Regions from separate parts of the Homo sapiens genome. Here region 1 is linked to region 2. The links come from fine-mapping of genetic effects on plasma protein levels. Region 2 holds a variant in brackets. A gene starts in the other region. All regions are shown on their forward strands.

Evidence for each region. PIP is the chance, under the fine-mapping model, that this variant and not a neighbour inherited with it causes the effect. Protein levels are from antibody-based Olink assays in UK Biobank. Linkage for the fine-mapping came from a reference panel and not from the study's own genotypes, which makes the PIPs less certain.
Region 1: LAMA4 starts here. The variant in region 2 is fine-mapped to the plasma level of the LAMA4 protein (UK Biobank, PIP above 0.99).

What each region holds. Positions count from the first base shown.
Region 1 is chr6:112,251,073-112,259,410 of GRCh38, forward strand. It overlaps LAMA4 (laminin subunit alpha 4), which reads right to left and starts at 3,495. Exons shown (of 39, transcript NM_001105206.3): 1 at 3,387-3,495; 2 at 2,884-3,219. The coding sequence starts at 3,078. The region is part of intron 2 of LAMA4-AS1 (LAMA4 antisense RNA 1); the gene reads left to right.
Region 2 is chr17:35,939,104-35,947,441 of GRCh38, forward strand. It overlaps LYZL6 (lysozyme like 6), which reads right to left and starts at 4,610. Exons shown (of 5, transcript NM_020426.4): 1 at 4,464-4,610; 2 at 115-455. The coding sequence starts at 253. The variant G/A (reference allele first, on the strand shown) is at 3,702.

The DNA of each region.
Region 1 (8,338 bases), not on the chromosome of region 2:
AAAGGACTCAGTAGATTAAGTGTCAAGAAGCAAAGGTGGGAAAATCCTCCCCACAACTAGTACGGAGTTACCCACAGGTGCTCTTCTTTTCAAATACTTTGCATCTGGGGGGAAGCTTTGGCTTGTTTTACAAGGAAAAGAGGAGACTTCCTTTTTGGTCAGCCAACAATCTCTATCCTTTTATTCCGTGCATATTTCATGTATTTGTTCCCCAGCTCACATGGAGCAATACAGCATGCCAGAGTTTGTGTCTTGGGCCAAGTACTCAGGGATGGAGAGTCCACAAGCTGGGCTATTGAAGAGCTTAGGAGAACCTCAGGAAGGCCTTCAGCCAAGCACCTCCCACTGCTCCATGCTTGCCTTAATATTTTTCTTCATTCCCTCTGAAGGAGAATTGCAGAATAACCATTCATATAAATCCAAGTAAAGAGAATGTATTTTTAGAATATCTTCCCATCCACACATTGAACCTCTCCCATGAATAATGTGTCCGTGTTCTCTTTCTCTCTCCACATATACACAAATACAGTCTCCTGAGCCAACCCAGTAAAGTGTTTGTACCATGTTATTAAGTCTCCGGAATGTATTTGGTTTAAGGTCTGGTTACTGCTATAAAGAGCATGGGAAACCTGATGGTGGGGCGTTGGGATCGCCATGGGACCGCAGGCTAACTGGAGGCATTATGTGAAACTATGCAGTGGGAACATAATTACCTCAATCTCACCCTTTCTACACCATATACTTTGACCTTCCTGGAATGACTAATATCTTCTTTCTGTTTTTCAAAACTGAAGGCCTCCACTGGCATTCTGAACCTATTAGACTCTGACATTACTACAAATTTAATTCACTACGTGACATTTTTTTTCCAGCTGGAAGAATATAGATAAACAGATATAATAATATTAAGTAAAAGAAAACCATAAACATAAGGTTCTAAGGAATATTCTCAAATAAGGGTTTCTTTTAATCTGATCATCATCCACATTTTTTATAGTAACAATTGTAACAACTCTTGGCATATATAGGGCATTTATACTATGTCAAGCACTATGCTAAGCACTCTATTTTATCTAATTTCATTACAATAAAAGTATGAGGTATGAAGCAGGCATCAATAAATTCTGTCAGTATCAGTTTATCTGCAGTCTGGGGATCTGTAACTTGACCAAGGTCAAAGAGCTTGAAATTTCAACTTGGGACCATCAGACTGAAAACCTGCAATCTGAAACACTTTGCTGTGCTGCCTTCCTATTATTTCACCAAACATATGAGCACATAAGAAATTTCCTAGGGTCTTAGCATTAATTTTAAGGTTCTCTAAAACTCAAAAAATTACTTTCCTATTTTTTTTGTGGGATGAGAGTTACAAAAAACAGTTGTATATGGCTTGTCTCTTTAGACCTAACAGATACAAATACAGGATGCCCGGATAAATTTGAATTTCAGATGAACAATGAAAACAAATTTTAATATAAATATGTCCTCTGCAGTATTTGGGATGTGATCAAAATTCATTCATTATTTATCTGAAATTCACATTTGAGTGTCCTGCAATTTATCTGCCAATTTTACTCTTAAGTAAAATTAAGCATTTCATTCAGGGACTTTACGTGCTCAAAGCAACAGGTGGAGATAATGCTTCCCTGGGGTTAATTCCAAGCCTGTAGAGAAGCAAAGCCTTCCCATTGCATGAAGTCCCTCCTGGTCTGGCTTCTCCCCAAGTTTCTGGGTATGAAGTTGACCAGAAGCCATGCTCCCTCTTTTTCATGGAGGCTACATTTTATACCACAGTGAGAGGTTGGCATATTCTGACCCTGTCCACTCTCTTTTTTGGGGCAATGTGGGTAGGGCTTACTCTGAAGAAGGACCATGTTCATGCACCTTATTTTTAATCATCAATAATTAATAACTATAATTGTACTAACAATTAACAGAATTCATAGCAATAATCCATGCATCAGTGATGTTAGAAATGGTGTCAATCCACATAACTGTTTTAGTTGTACAGTTGCTGTAACCATAGCTATAGAGTGTGGTGTTTGTTTTGCTAGGTCAATTGCTCCTTCCTTTCCCATGAACTTAGGTGACTTTATTTTCCTCCCTCTTAGCATGTCCCATGCAATGGGCATGCTGTTGTCTGTTTCAGTTCAGGGGTTCTTAAATCACTTGTTCTGGATTCATTCTCCTTTACCAGACCTCTACATTCTGGTTTTGTTTCCAACTTAAAAGCTATTGTAAGGTATTCAAACAGCAGCTCTTTGAATAAACATATTATCAATAGCATATCCTGAGGCTTGATTTTAATGGAAACATCTTGTTTCTGGAATACAATGGCTCGTTTCTACTTAAGATACCCTCTCAGCAGTTGTCTAACAGCTCCTTTCATGACCAGCCACTCTCACTCACCCCCTCACCTTCCCTGCTGCAGAAGACTTCTTGTCTAATATGAGACAAAAAGATCCTGCAGTAGTGTTCCCACTGTCCTAACAGCACAGAGGAGCAGGAAGCCAGTGACAGGGCACACACGTTAAGTGCCGTGGCTTGACAAAATGACTACTGGGACACGCAAGTGGCAGAAGTCACCGATGTGCTGCTGCAGTCCCCGGTGAGAGTCTAGCGGATGAACTCAGAGCACCAACACATGCACTCTCACCCCTTTGAGCAGACACATTCCGAAGCCTCAACTTTCAACTCTCAACATCCAAATGCAACTTACAAAGGAAAACTCTTTATTTCAAGTTTCCGAACTGACCTAGCCCAGGTGAAACTCTCAAGGCACTGGGGAGAGGAAAGAGGCGGAGAGAGAGAGAAGGACGAGTGTGGCACAGCCCGCGGGGGCGCAGGTGCCCCAGCAGGGTGGCAATGGCAGGGACACTGTACCTCGGCCGCAGGCGGCAGGCGTCCCAGAGCCACGCGGGGTTCGCTCGTCTCAGGCGGGTCTTGCCTGCCAACCGCTGAGCTCCCTTCAATGTCAAAAGGAAAAGCGTTGTCGTCCCCGGACGCGGCGCGGGAGCAGGCAGCGCTCCAGAGGAGCCACAGAGGCAGAACCGAGCGCCAGGCTGAGCTCAAAGCCATTTCTCCGCTGACATCCAGTAGTGCTCTTCCAGGGCTCGGGCGCTGTGGGTCTCCGTAGGTCTCCCGCGTGGTGCGGCGGTGCCTCGCTTATTTTCCCTCCTCTCCGTGTGCAGTATCCCGAGGTGGCTGCGCAACCAGCAGCTTAGGAAATAAAGGGAAAGTGCGAGAGTAAGGGAGAGTTCCAGCCTCTCTCTCCCTCTCTCTCTCTCCCCTTCTCCCCCTCTCTCTCCCTCTCCCTCTCCCTCTTTCACTTTTTCTCCTTCCCGCAGAGGTTCTGGCTCAAGAACCTACAGATGGACGGAGCTTACAGTACGGCATCAAAAGGCAGACGGATTGGGGTGAGCCCCGCCAGCGCTAGGCCACCTCCTCTCCCTGGCCGTTCGGGACTGGGGACTGCGCTGTCCTGGCTTCCTTCTCACATTCATTCTCACCACTCCCTTTTTACCTTCTACTCCCAGGCCCTCCCACTCTAAGCTGGCTTTTCAGACACTGAGGTCCGCCTTTCCCTGCGGTCTTCCCTCCCCTCTCAGTTTGGAGCCCCTCCAAGGGCTCCAGAAGAATATTCAGCTTTTGTGACGCTTCCTCACCACTCTTATTTATGTAGTCAAGGTACCGGATGTCTTATCTATATTTACATAGATATTTTATGTGGCCCCCGCTAGTTTGCAGGAAAGTGGGTGGAAAAGGGATTCCAGGGCAGGAACCAAAGGTAGATGATCTCTGAAGGCAGAGGGTCAGGGTGCCCACTTTCTTGAGCAAGGTTTCTCGGGTTTTTTCTGGGGGATAGACTGTTGCACTCTTTGTGCTAATATCTTCTCTTCAGATTCACTGGCCACCCCTCTTCCTCCCTCCAGTCCTCACCCAGAGGGCTTGGGAGAAGAATATCTTTCACTGCAGCGCTGGAAAATGACTTCATTACCCAAATGCATGAACTTTTATTTACAAAGACCATCTTGTTTTCATCCTAAAGAGGTGCTTTGTAAGGGGCCCGGAACAAGGCTTGCAGTGTATGAGCCTGTCAAGTATACTGCCTACAGCCCCGGCCTCTTCCTCTTGGCCTGTAATCTCATGCCTACTACATCTGTCTGAATCATGTAACCTTTCCAAGACTTCAGGGTGAAGTTGGGCTACAGCTATGTCAGGGGTGCCCCTGTGGATGGGATAGTGTCTGCAACAGCTGATAGGTACCTTTGTTTACATTGGCTTCATAACGAGCTCTAAACATTTCCACAAGATCCAACCATGGTTTAAAAATGGTCAGATGAGACAACCATAAAATGACACCCAGGTAAGCTTCCAGGTGAAATAAAGCATTTTTGTATAACCTAATCATAAAATAAATAAATAAAGCCTTTCCATAAAACCTAATCATTAGCTCCATTTCATAGAACAAAAGTCATTTTATCTAAGTGTAAGCAAAACCATTTATTTTGCACCTAACATGTGCCAGATACTTGGCATATGCTATTTGTAAACCTCAGCATTCCTGCAAAGTAGTACCATTATTTTCCTTTTACAGAAGAAGAAAGTGAGGTTCAGAGAGACTAGGACATTTGCCCAAGGTCGCACAGCTGGTGGAAAGCAGAGATGGGGTTTGGATCCAGGCCTCACTGATTCCAAAGCTCTCTTTTACATCTGTATACACGACACTGCAACTTTAAAATAAAGAGTATGAATTCAGAGGTGAAGGAAATGGACACTTTTATTTTTTGAGTGCCTCCCATGTGCAAAAAAATCACATAAATTGTCTCATTTAGGGCTGGGCGTGGTGGCTCATGCCTGTAATCCCAGCACTTTGGGAGGCCAAGGTGGGTGGATCATGAGGTCAGGAGTTCGATACCAGCCTGGCCAACATGGTGAAACCCCGTCTCTACTAAAAATACAAAATTTAGCCAGGCATGGTGGGAGGCGCCTGTAGTCCCAGCTACTCGGGAGGCTGAGGCAGGAGAATTGCTTGAACCCGGGAGGTGGAGGTTGCAGTGAGCAGAGATTTTACCACTGACTCCAGCCTGGGTGACAGAGAAAGACTCCAGCTCAAAAAAAAAAAAAAAAAAAAAAAAAAAAATTGTCTCATTTAATTTCATCTTTATGATAATCTCATGAAGTAGGGATTGTCATACACATTTGGCCATGGGTAAGTGGTAAAATTACTACTATAGCCCAGGTAAATCTGATGGTAAGATCTTTGATTTTAAATGATAAAATTGTATGATACAAAAGAACCAAAGCCAAAGGAAGCAAAAATAATTCCTATAGGTTTTAAAGTGATATTTTGATTTTAAAATATTAAAATAGTATTGCAAGGGACTATTAAGCTAAATTATGATACTCTTCTTTTACATAGACTTGTTAACCTACTAAATTAAGTGGGAGAAGTTAAAAACATGTTTGGTTTAGTTGAGAGACTGATATTGGGAAAAAAGATAGCCAGACTCTGAGACAAAACAGATTATGCTCAGTTATACTGACCCAGTCACCCTTTAAAAGAACATTAAATAATAATAATATTAATTATATATGATGTATATTAAATATTCTGACTTCAGATACAGATCTCTTCAGCTCACCAAAACTCATATATTTGTTTTCTGAAGGATTTCATCTTGTTCTTTACTAGCTGCCAATTAATCACACACTTTTTAATTTAATCTGGGCCCTCTTCTGTCTGCCTGCCCAGTGCTGGTAGGAGTGTATTCGTCCAAGACCTATGGACTTCTTATTTTTGGTTAAATATGTGCTCCCAGCTCTTCCTCTTCATCTTCTTTCTGTGGGTACTATTATTGTTTTTGAGACAAAATGGCATAATATGCAGGGGGATGGGTTTTGTATAAAATAAAACAGGGTTCAAATCCTGGGTCTGCATGTAGTACTTTTGGGAGCTTGGCATGTAACTTAGTCCCTCTGAAAGTTTCCTTCCCTGTAAAATGGGCATAATGATGCCTTTTTGTCATAGGCATTTCAACTAGAGCAATTCCATCTTGAATAGGGGCTGGGTAAAATAGGACTGAGACCTACTGGGCTGCGTTTGGAGGAGGTTAGGCATTCTAACTCACTGGATGAGACAGGAGATCAGCATAAGATACAGGTCACAAAGACCTTGCTGATAAAACAGCATGCGGTAAAGAAGGCAGTCAAATCCCAACAAAACCAAGGTGGTGACCTTGGTCGGACTCACTGCTCATTATACGTGAATTATATTGCGCTAACATGCTAAAATACACTCCCACCAGCACCATGACAGCTTATAAATGCCATGGCAACATCAGGGAGTTACCCTATATGGTCTAAAAAAGGGAGGAACCCTTAGGTTCCCAGAAATTGCCGACTCCTTTCCCAGGAAACTCATGAATAATCCACACCCTGTTTAGCATATAATCAAGAAATAACCATAAAGATAGGCAATCAGCAGCCCTTGAGGCTGCTCTGCCTGTGGAGTAGCCATTCTTTTATTCCTTTACTTTCTGAATAAACTTGGCTTTACTTAACTCTATGGACTCGCCTGGAATTTTTTGTTGCGTGAGATCCAAGAACCTTCTCTTGGGGTCTGGATTGAAACCTCTTTCTGGTAACATTTTCACTGAATTATTATGGGTAGTAAATGAAAGAATATAAATAAACATTAACACAGACTAGCATGTAGTCAGAGCTCAATAAATACTATTTAATTATACAATAAGCCCCCATTTAACATTATCTATATGTTCTTGGAAACTGCAACTTTAAGCAAAACAACATACAATGAAGCCAATTTTACCTTAGGCTAATTGACATAATTAAGATTTATTTAAATTCCTATGACATAGTTCTGGTCACAAAAACATCACTAAACTTCTAAAGAAAGACCAAAATGCTTCTAATGGTAAATATGAAAATAAATGTGAGCTATACGTACATTTCAGAAAGATTAATAGAAACAAGTGTGAGAATTATTTACCCAATGTTTGGTGAATCAGTGAGTGACAGCAGTCATAGTGGTGGTGGGTTAAAGCAAGGAATAAATGTTTTAAAGCAAAAATTATAAGCACCTCCTACCACCATGCAATTCAAAAAAACCCAACAACAAATATGATGGGCTCGCTGAACGCTTCCATGCAGCATCATTTATTGTCATATGCCTGTATGATTATTGTAGACTTCATGAATTTTTATTTGATAACAATTTTTGTTCATTATTCAATCATTTTCCAACCTGCTTTTTCCAACTCAGAGTGTTGGGTGGCTGGAGCCCATACTGGCAGCTCAGAGTTCAAGCTGGGGACCCTGGACAGAAGGCCATTCCATTGCCGGGCACGCTCACACACACACAGCCACACTCACTAAGACTGGAACCATGCAGACGTACCAAGGAACGAGGATATCTTTGAGATGTGGGAGGAAACTGAAGTACCTGGAGAAAACTCACGTGAGAACTTGCAAATTCCACACAGACAGTGGCTCCAGCCAGGAATTGATTTTTTTTTTTTTCTCACCAATATTATGACAAAGCAACATTGAAAGAAACAATGTTATTCTGGGACCTGCCTTACTATATTTTCAAATCTTAAAGAAGAACAAAATGACTATTGTAAAAGAGGAAAGGCAACCATTTTATTTATCCTGGTGTAGGTAACCTCCCATGTTTGAGAATAGCCATTCACATTTCTGGCTGCTACTGGGCCCTTCCTTGCATTAACCAGGAATGAGGCAGTCATGGGCCACAGAGTCATAGGTCAAGCAGATGAGGAGAGAGCACGGCTGACTAATTTACAGCAAGTTAAAAGGCAGCAGAAACCTTTGGTGAGTTACCTCCTCACCAAAGGGCCACTCCTTGACCACCAAACACCTGAGTGTAGGAGGATTTTATTCCTGCCACAAGGGCAACTGGGAAGCATTTCTAGTGCGGCTGCTTTCTTATCACGGCTCTCCCTTTCTCTCCCTCCTGGGATTGAGGCTTGGTGTTCACCCAGTCTTTTCATGGCTGTCATCGTTTTCGGGACACCTATCTACCCCGTGATGACAGGGGTGCTGCTCCATCATCCACAATGCATAGAAGACAGCACGGACATGCAGAGACGCTCACAGTGCCTACAAGGACACTAAGCCCGTTAGTACAAAACGAGGGCCCCCACACCATCCAACTCCCAGACCAATACTTTCCCAACTAGGCCGAGCTATTTTTGGTTCTGGCAGCAGCAGATCTGATGATTTTGAGGTTTTATCAAAAGAAGCTTCTGGAATTCCCTTTTGAGGACCCTAGTGTGATAATCAGCAGATAAATATC
Region 2 (8,338 bases):
AGGGGGCTGCTTTTTGAACTTGGCTTTGAAAGATGAACAGGAGAGAAAGAAGCTGGCCATATAGGACATGACTAGCAGAGGAGAAATGGCTGGGGAGGGGCGGATGGTACTCACAGTCACTCAGGGAGTAACCCTCAAACCCATCCAAGTCCTCCAGCTGCAGCACCTGGGCCAAGTCACAGCGACTGATGAGGCTGGCCTGATTTAGGGCAAGAAAGCTGCTGACCAAATAGATGAGTAGCGCCTTTGTCATCCTTGGAGGGGAGGAGGTGCAGCTGAGGGCTGATGGTTCTTAGGGTCTTGCAGACTTTCTGCTGATCTTCTCTGAGAGCCTGGGGAATCTGGAGAGGGCAGCCAGGTTTCCTTACTCACTCACTGCTCCAACCTGGCTGTTTCCAATCTCTTTTCTCTTGTTTATTATTTTATAGATTTTTATTTATCATGGAAAATTAAACCTTTAAAAAAGGAAAGAGAATAGTATCATGAACCTCCATATACCCACTTCTGAGCTTCAACATTCAAAAACCAAGGCCAATCTTTCTTTGTTGTTGTTTGTTTTTTATTTTTTTATTTTTTAGAGATGGGGGTCTCACTCTGTTGACCAGGCTGGTCTTGAACTCCTGGCCTCAAGTGATCCTCCCATCTCAGCCTCCCAAAGTGCTGGGATTACAGGTGTGAGCCACCACACCTGGCCAATCTCATTTCATCCATAGGTCCTCTTATATGGGCACCCAGCTATGGGTAGTATTTGGGTATTGGGATGGGGAGTGAGGTTGGCAAAGGAGATTACTGAAGACTATCTTCACCAGCATATGTGTGTGTGTATCTGAGCATGTGCTTTTAGAAAGAGGGCCAGGACACTGGGTGCTAATCTCCCCACAACCCCACTCCCCCAGACACATGACACATGATTTTTCCCAAGGGCATACCCTGCCTGGTACAATTCTTGGTGGGCTGGCTGTAGACGTAACCTTCACTTTCACATTGTGTATGTGTGTGTGCGCGTGTGTGTGTGTTGAATAGCAAGGGCCCTAGATTCACACTGCCTGCTTTCAAATCCTGGGGTGCTATGTGACTTTGGGCAACATACTCAACCTTTCTGGGCCTCATTTGTAAAATGAAGATATGCTAATACCTACCTAAAAGGGTTGTTTTGATGATTAAATGAAATAATGCCCAGATCTTGGTTCACATTCCACACAAAAGGGAACCAGGACTCTAGGAAATATGGCTGATTCCCAGGCTGGAGCAGGAAAGGGTTATGAGATGTCTGGATTATCTTGCTGTACAAGAAATTTAAAAAGTGCTCGAAATATGTATTGGGGCATGTCAAATGGACACAAGAGCTAGCTCAAAGGGGCACCGACTGGCCAGATCTGAAACGATGTTTTTTGGTAACAGCATTATTGAGATATAATTCATGTATCATACAATTAATTCAGTTAAAGTGTACAATTCAGTGGTTTTCAGTATGTTTGCAGAGTTGTACAACTACTACCTCACTTGATTTTAGAATATTTTCATCAATCCAAAACAAAACCCTGCACCCATTTAGCAGTCACTGCCCATCCCCCACCTCCCAACCCCTGGCAACCACTAATCTACTTTCTGTCTCTATGGATTTGCCTCTTCTGGACATTTCATACACACGGAGTTACAGAAAATATGGCATTTTGTATCTGGCTTCTTTCACTTAGCATAATGTTTTGAAGTTTCATTCAGGTTGGAGCATGTAATGATACTTCATTCCTTTCTATGGTTGAATAATATTTCATTGTATGAATACACCATACTTCGTCTATCCATTCATTAGTTGATGGACATTTGGGTTGTTTCTATTTTTGGCTATCATGAATAATCCTACTATGAACATTAACATACTAGTTTTTGTGTGGATATATGTTTTTATTTCTTTGGAGTAGAGTTGCTGGGTCATGGGGTAACCCTAGGCTTAAGCTTATGAGGCCTACCAGATTTCCAAAGTGGCTGCACCATTTTGCATTCCCATCAGCAGTGTATGAAGGTTCCAATTTCTCTACATCCTCACCAACACTTGTTATTATCTGTCTTCTTGACAAAAGGTATCCTAGTGGGTATGAACTGGTATCACCCTGTTGTTTTAATTTGCGTTTCCCAGATGGCTACGGATGTTGATCATCTTTTTATGTGCTTATTGGCCACTGTATATCTTTGGGAAAATGTCTATTCAGAACCTTTGGCCAGTTTCAAATTGAGTTGTCTTTTTATTACTGAGTGGGAAGAGTTCTTTATATATTCTGTATACTAGACCAGCATCAGATATATGGCAGATATTTTTTTCCCATTCTGTGGGTTGCCTTTCACTTTCTTGGTGGTGTTCTTTGAAGCCCCAAAGTTTTTAATTTTGATGATGTGCAAGTTATCTATTTGTCCTTTTGTTGGGTGTGCTTTTGGTGTCATATCTAAGAAACCATTGCATAATGGTTTCCAACCCAATCTGGGACAATTAGACCATCAGAATAAATGACAGTAACAGATTATACATTAAATGCAATAGGAATCCATGAGCCCATAATAATAATAAATTGACAAAAAGATACATTGTGTGGAGCTGAAGCAGAGACCTCTTCCTGACAATAAAAGGCCAACCGATAAGTGTGGAGGAAGTCATGGAGTTGAAAAATAATCACCATTTTGCAACTATCATAGATTGGTTTGAGAACAAATCATCATTGCATGCTAAATCTGAGGTGGTGGGAAGAATGCTGAAGAACTGGATATATCATGATCTTATAGGGTCTCCCCACAGATTGCTTATTAGTTGCACAGAAAGAAAAAACAAAACAGTATACAGTGGATAACCAGACAGTATTTTGACCTTGCAATCAAAATTAACATCTCCAAAGACGGACAGAGGGACATTGTGTGCCTCCAGATGTGATTCCCAAGGAGGACACATCGCTTATGCAATATTCCGTCCAGGGATGCATAGGCTATGTCTAATCCTGAGGAAACATCAAAGCCAAACTCACTGAAAATCTGTAAGATAACTGGCCTGTATTCTTCAAAATGGCCAATGCCATGAAAACTGAAAGACTGGCCAGGCATGGTGGCTCATGCCTGTAATCCGAGCACTTTGGGAGGCTGAGGTGAGAGAATTGCTTAGGCCAGGAGTTTGAGACCAACCTGGGAAACAGCAAGACCTCATCTCTACACTAAAAAGAAATAATACTTCCAATAAATCTGAAAACCTGGGACTATTTCTGTCACTGAGGGAAGGTGTGTTTTTCCCCTTAACTTAGGTATATGCTGCTGAGGGGGCAGAAGCCTGAGTTCTTCCACCCGCCGCCTTCAAGTGTCAGGCGGCTTCTGCTTGGACAAGATGGCTACCCTGGTGGGCTTGTTTCTTCTCTGGTCTTGTTATAGGAGGCAGAAAGAAACTACTTAGGTAGACAGTTAGGGTAAAGTGAATCCCCAGCAGAAAACTTTCCTTTTAACGCAAAGCAGCTCAAAGATAGCTCCCTTTCTAACCTCACGCAGTTCAAGGAAATCACTTTTCTTCTAACAACAACCAGCCTGAAAGAGCAAAGGGTAAAAACAGATAAGAGCTCAGGCACAGAAGGATGGGGGAAGTCTCCTGGGTAATCACCAAACTTCACACTTATACAATGGGCCCCAGTAAAACAGTGGGCCTTAATAACTACATTCCTTTCTCTTTAGGC[G/A]CGCTAAGATAGGGAAGCTAAAAGCAGAATCGATGGGTATGCCTACAGCTGCAAGATGTGTGGGAATAGACACAGAAACTCTCGCTCCCAGATAAGCAAGACAAAGAGACACAGACTAAAAGTTGATGTGGTCGGGAATGGGGTGAGAGCCTATTAAAAACTCTGCTCTATACAGATAGCACACCTGGTCCCAACTGAACCATCGGGCTCTAGGAGGATAAGACATCCCCTCCTCATGAATGCCCCTCTCTAGCCCATTTATAAAACCCTGACGTTTTTACTACCACCTGGCAACCTGCCTGGGACCTCTGTCTGTGACAGAGAGCTGTTCTTTCCTTTTGCCTATTAAACTCCTGCTCCAAACTCACTCTGTGTGCGTGTGTGTCTGCGACCTCGATCTCCTTAAACGTGAGACCACGAACCTTGGTATTTACTTCAGACAATGAGGCTGCTTCTGTCTCTTGTTCTATCTGAGACTCGTTCCACACCAGCCTGAGCTTCGGGCCATTCTTTTGCTTCTCCCATCATTCTACCCCCAGAGCTGACAGATTTGGCAAATAAAATTTACAAGATGCCCTGTTAAATTAGAATTTCAGACAAACAACCTACTCCACACTGACTCAGGAGGGTCCCTCAGAGATAGATGTCACTGAGCCTCGGGAAGCAGGAAGCTCCATCCCTGCCCATTAAGCCCCCTCTCAGGGTCCCCTCAAGGAAGACAGTGGCTCCAGAAGGTATGTTCCCACCCCTTCCACAGCTTACCTCTCTCCCATCCCTCTCTGACCCTGGGTTCCACCTGGCCCAGAGATTTCTGGGAGGATCTGTAGAACAAGGCTGTCTACAGTAGGAGCCTCTTCTTCCTCACCACATACACTTCAGCCCTGCCCAACTAACAGCTCTCCATGTTCTAAAGAAGGCTTCTGGAACCCCAGTTCTGTGACGTCATCCATCTCCTGGAAATACACTGGTTTTAACCAGGCAAATTGGCCAAGCATCAGGCAGAAGTAGCAGCTGGGCCTGGGAGGACAGGTGACATCTGTGAGGAAAATGGCCGGGTGGGATAGGGTGGAGAGCACTGGCTGTTTCCTTCATTTTTGGGAACAGCACCACCTTTGGGGGGACTCCTTCCCTCATGGGGTTTTAGTGGGGGCTGCCAGTCCTGGGGTCCTGCCCCCCACCACCCCCCATAAGCATAGGAATGCTTGTGTGCCAGTCACTATATTTGTAAACGGAAGCTGGTGGAGCTGCTCAGCTTCCAACAGGAAGCCCATGTGTGCAGGGCCAGAGGACATAGCCCATCTAAGGTGCTAAGCCTCCGTGAAGAGGGAGCGGAGTCTGGACGGGATTCCAGCCCCAGGGTCCACCCTTTCTGGGACCCAAACACACCCTTCCCCTCCCTTCAATTCTGAGATTCAATAAATGTCCCCACTCACAGAACAAGTTTGAGTTGGGTTTCTGTCACTTGCAGCCAAAAGAGCCAGTTGTAGTCGGCATGGGGTCAACCATCTGTGATATGGTGACCTGACACCCTGTCCCCTCCCTGTGAAGGCCACAACATCCCAACATCATTAGTCACCGAGGAAGTCTGGGAGAAATTTCTACCAACTGTAGCAAAAAAGAGGCAAGGGAGAAAACATCTTGTTACTGACGGCCCACTCTTCCCTCTGAAACAGGGAGGCAGGATCTGACAGAAAAATAGGACAAGGGGCTTCTGAGTGGGCAGTGCTGCCCCGTGCCCCTCCAGACTTCTCTTCCCAGCAGGGCAGCAGTGCATGGCACCCTGGGATAGAAGGCCTGCAGGGGCAGAGGGGAGGCTGAACATGCTGGGGGCACCACTTTATGAGAAACCATTTGTGGCCAAAAATCTACATGGGCTTCAGATGACCTGAATGAACTCGTCTCTGTAGAGTGAGAGTCCTGGGCAGGAGGAAAGGTTTCCATAGCCAAGGACCACATGCTTGGAAATTTGATCTCTGAAACTTAAGATCTGAGAGAGGATGGTCTCCCAAGGAAGTCACATGAGCCTCAGTTTAATCCTGTTGGTTTGCAGAAGTTTCCACTCCCTCTGGAGGCTGGGTTGGGACCTCCTGCTGGGCTGCAGAATATTTAGTCTCTTTGATAGGCTCTGAAGTTATGGTCATTCAAAGGGGGTCCAGAGGGACCCTCCACCTCCAGCCCCCTAGCTGTGGCAAACATGGGTAGATTCCTACCCATTCAAACAACTGGAAAACCCAAGCTGGGACCCATGAGTCAAGTCAGCTCAGGGCAAGAGGACAGATGGATACCATAGGCCATCTGTCTCAATATTTGCAAGTTATAAATTAAACTAACAGACTGTTAAAGTATGTCCTACCCTCATACTCTGACAAATATTCCTTTAAAAGGATAAAATTTTAAAATGTGTATGAAGCTATGATTTGTATTTTTTTTTTTTTAGAGATGGAGTCTCACTCTGGAGTGATCTCGGCTCACTGCAACCTCTGCCTCCTGGGTTCAAGCAATTCTGCCTCAGCCTCCCGAGTAGCTGGGACTACAGGTGCATGCCACCATGCCTGGCTAATTTTTTTTTGTATTTTAGTAGCGACAGGGTTTCACCTTGTTGCCCAGGCTGGTCTTGAGCTCCTGAGCTCAGGCAATCTGCCTGCCTCGGCCTCCCAAAGTGCTAGGATTACAGGCGTGAGCCACCACGCCCGGCCGATTATGTTATGTTATGTATGTTAAAGTATGTCCTATCCTCATCCTCTGACAAATATGCCTTTAAAAGGATAAAATTTTAAAATATATATGAAGCTATGATTTGTATATGACAGAAAGTTAGCAAAATGTCAAAGATCATGAAATTTCATGTTTATTGCGCATGTCTGGGTGCTCTGTTGATGGGCTGACAATATTGGGATGAGTAATAAAGATGTGGAATTTATAAATTACTGAAACTATTCCATGAAATGTATTTTTCTTATCTTTCAGCAAAATCGGTAATTATGTTATTATTATCAAGATTTGAAAATACATGTAAGGATTAAAACAATCATATTCAAAGTACAAATATCTTAATATTTTCATCAAAATTATGTTTATGTAAAAAATTTAATTTTATCAGGAATATTTTCCCAAAAGTTAGTTTTCTTTTCAACTATTGAAAAGTATCCATTAAACCAAAAGGCAACATACAAATTAGAATTAGTCAAATTTTTACGTCAAAATGATTGAAATAAATCCATTTTATTTTGATTTTTGAAAACTTGATTAATTTTTATTAATTTTAAATTCATAATTCTAGCATTCAGTGACCACCAATGTAAAGAACAGGCATCATGGTTTGTCTGAGGGCTAGACATAGATACAAATTTTAGAGTAATGTGTAATGTGATTTGTTTAACCCTTTTTCTGTTTGCCCAGAGAATACTCACTGGTGGCACCTGCAGCTGCAGTGTTTACCCCAAGATAACTTTGCCATGAAATATTTAACACAAAGGGTAAATGCTTGAGGGGATGGATACCCCATTCTCCATGATGTCTTTATTATGTATTGTATGCCTGTATCAAAACATCTCAGGTGCCCCATAAATATATACACTTACTATGTACCCACAAAAACTACAACTAAAATTTTAAAAAGTAATGAACTATTGCCACACAAAACAACATGGATAAAACTCAAAATAATTATACTGAGTGAAAGAAGCTTGACAAAAAAGAGTACACACTGTATGATTCCATTTCTAGAAAGCACTAGAAAATATAAACTAACCTATGATGATAGAAAGCAGATCAGGGCAGGGTACAGTGGCTCACACCTGTAATCCCAGCACTTTAGGAGGCTGAGGTGGGCGAATCACTTGAGGTGAGGAGTTCGAGACCAGCCTGGTCAACAAAGTGAAACCCTGTCTCTACTAAAAATATAAAAATTAGCCAGGCCTGTTGGCACGCACCTGTAATCCCAGCTACTCGGGAGGCTGAGGCACAAAAATCACTCGAACCCAGGAGGTGGAGGTTGCAGTGAGCCAAGATCATGCCACTGCACTCCAGCCTGGGAGACAGAGCAAGACTCCATCTTAAAAAAATAAATAAATAAAATAAAAACGAAAGAAAAGAAAAAAAGAGAGCAGATCAGTAGTTGCTTGGGGGTGGGGAGGTAGAAAGAGCAGGAAGCAGGATCACCAAGGGCAACAAGGAAACTTTTTGTGGGAACGGATATCTTCACTATCTTGATTGTGATAATGATTTCAGGTGTATACCAAGGGTCAGATGTTACCAAATTGTAATCTCTATATATGCACAGTTTATTATATGTCAATACCTCAATACATCTGCCTAAAATGTTTAAAAATTACTGTAATTATACAAAATATATTTTATGAAAAGGAAGTTATGGGTGGGCATGGTTGAGAACCACAGCATCAGATAGATTCAGAAGTGGGGGAAAAGCATCTCCCACTTCCCCTTCTTCAGGCCAGCGTGCTGTGCAATTTATCCAGTGGACACTAGAGGACAGCAGCGACTCAGGTAGAGGAAGTGGGCGTTTCAGGGCTTGAATGCTTAGAATTCTCTGCTCTGTGCTCCCTATCCTGGGCGGTGGGCGGTGGGCGTTAATACCCCCATAATACTCAGTTACCGCTGGGACTTGGGCCCTGGTC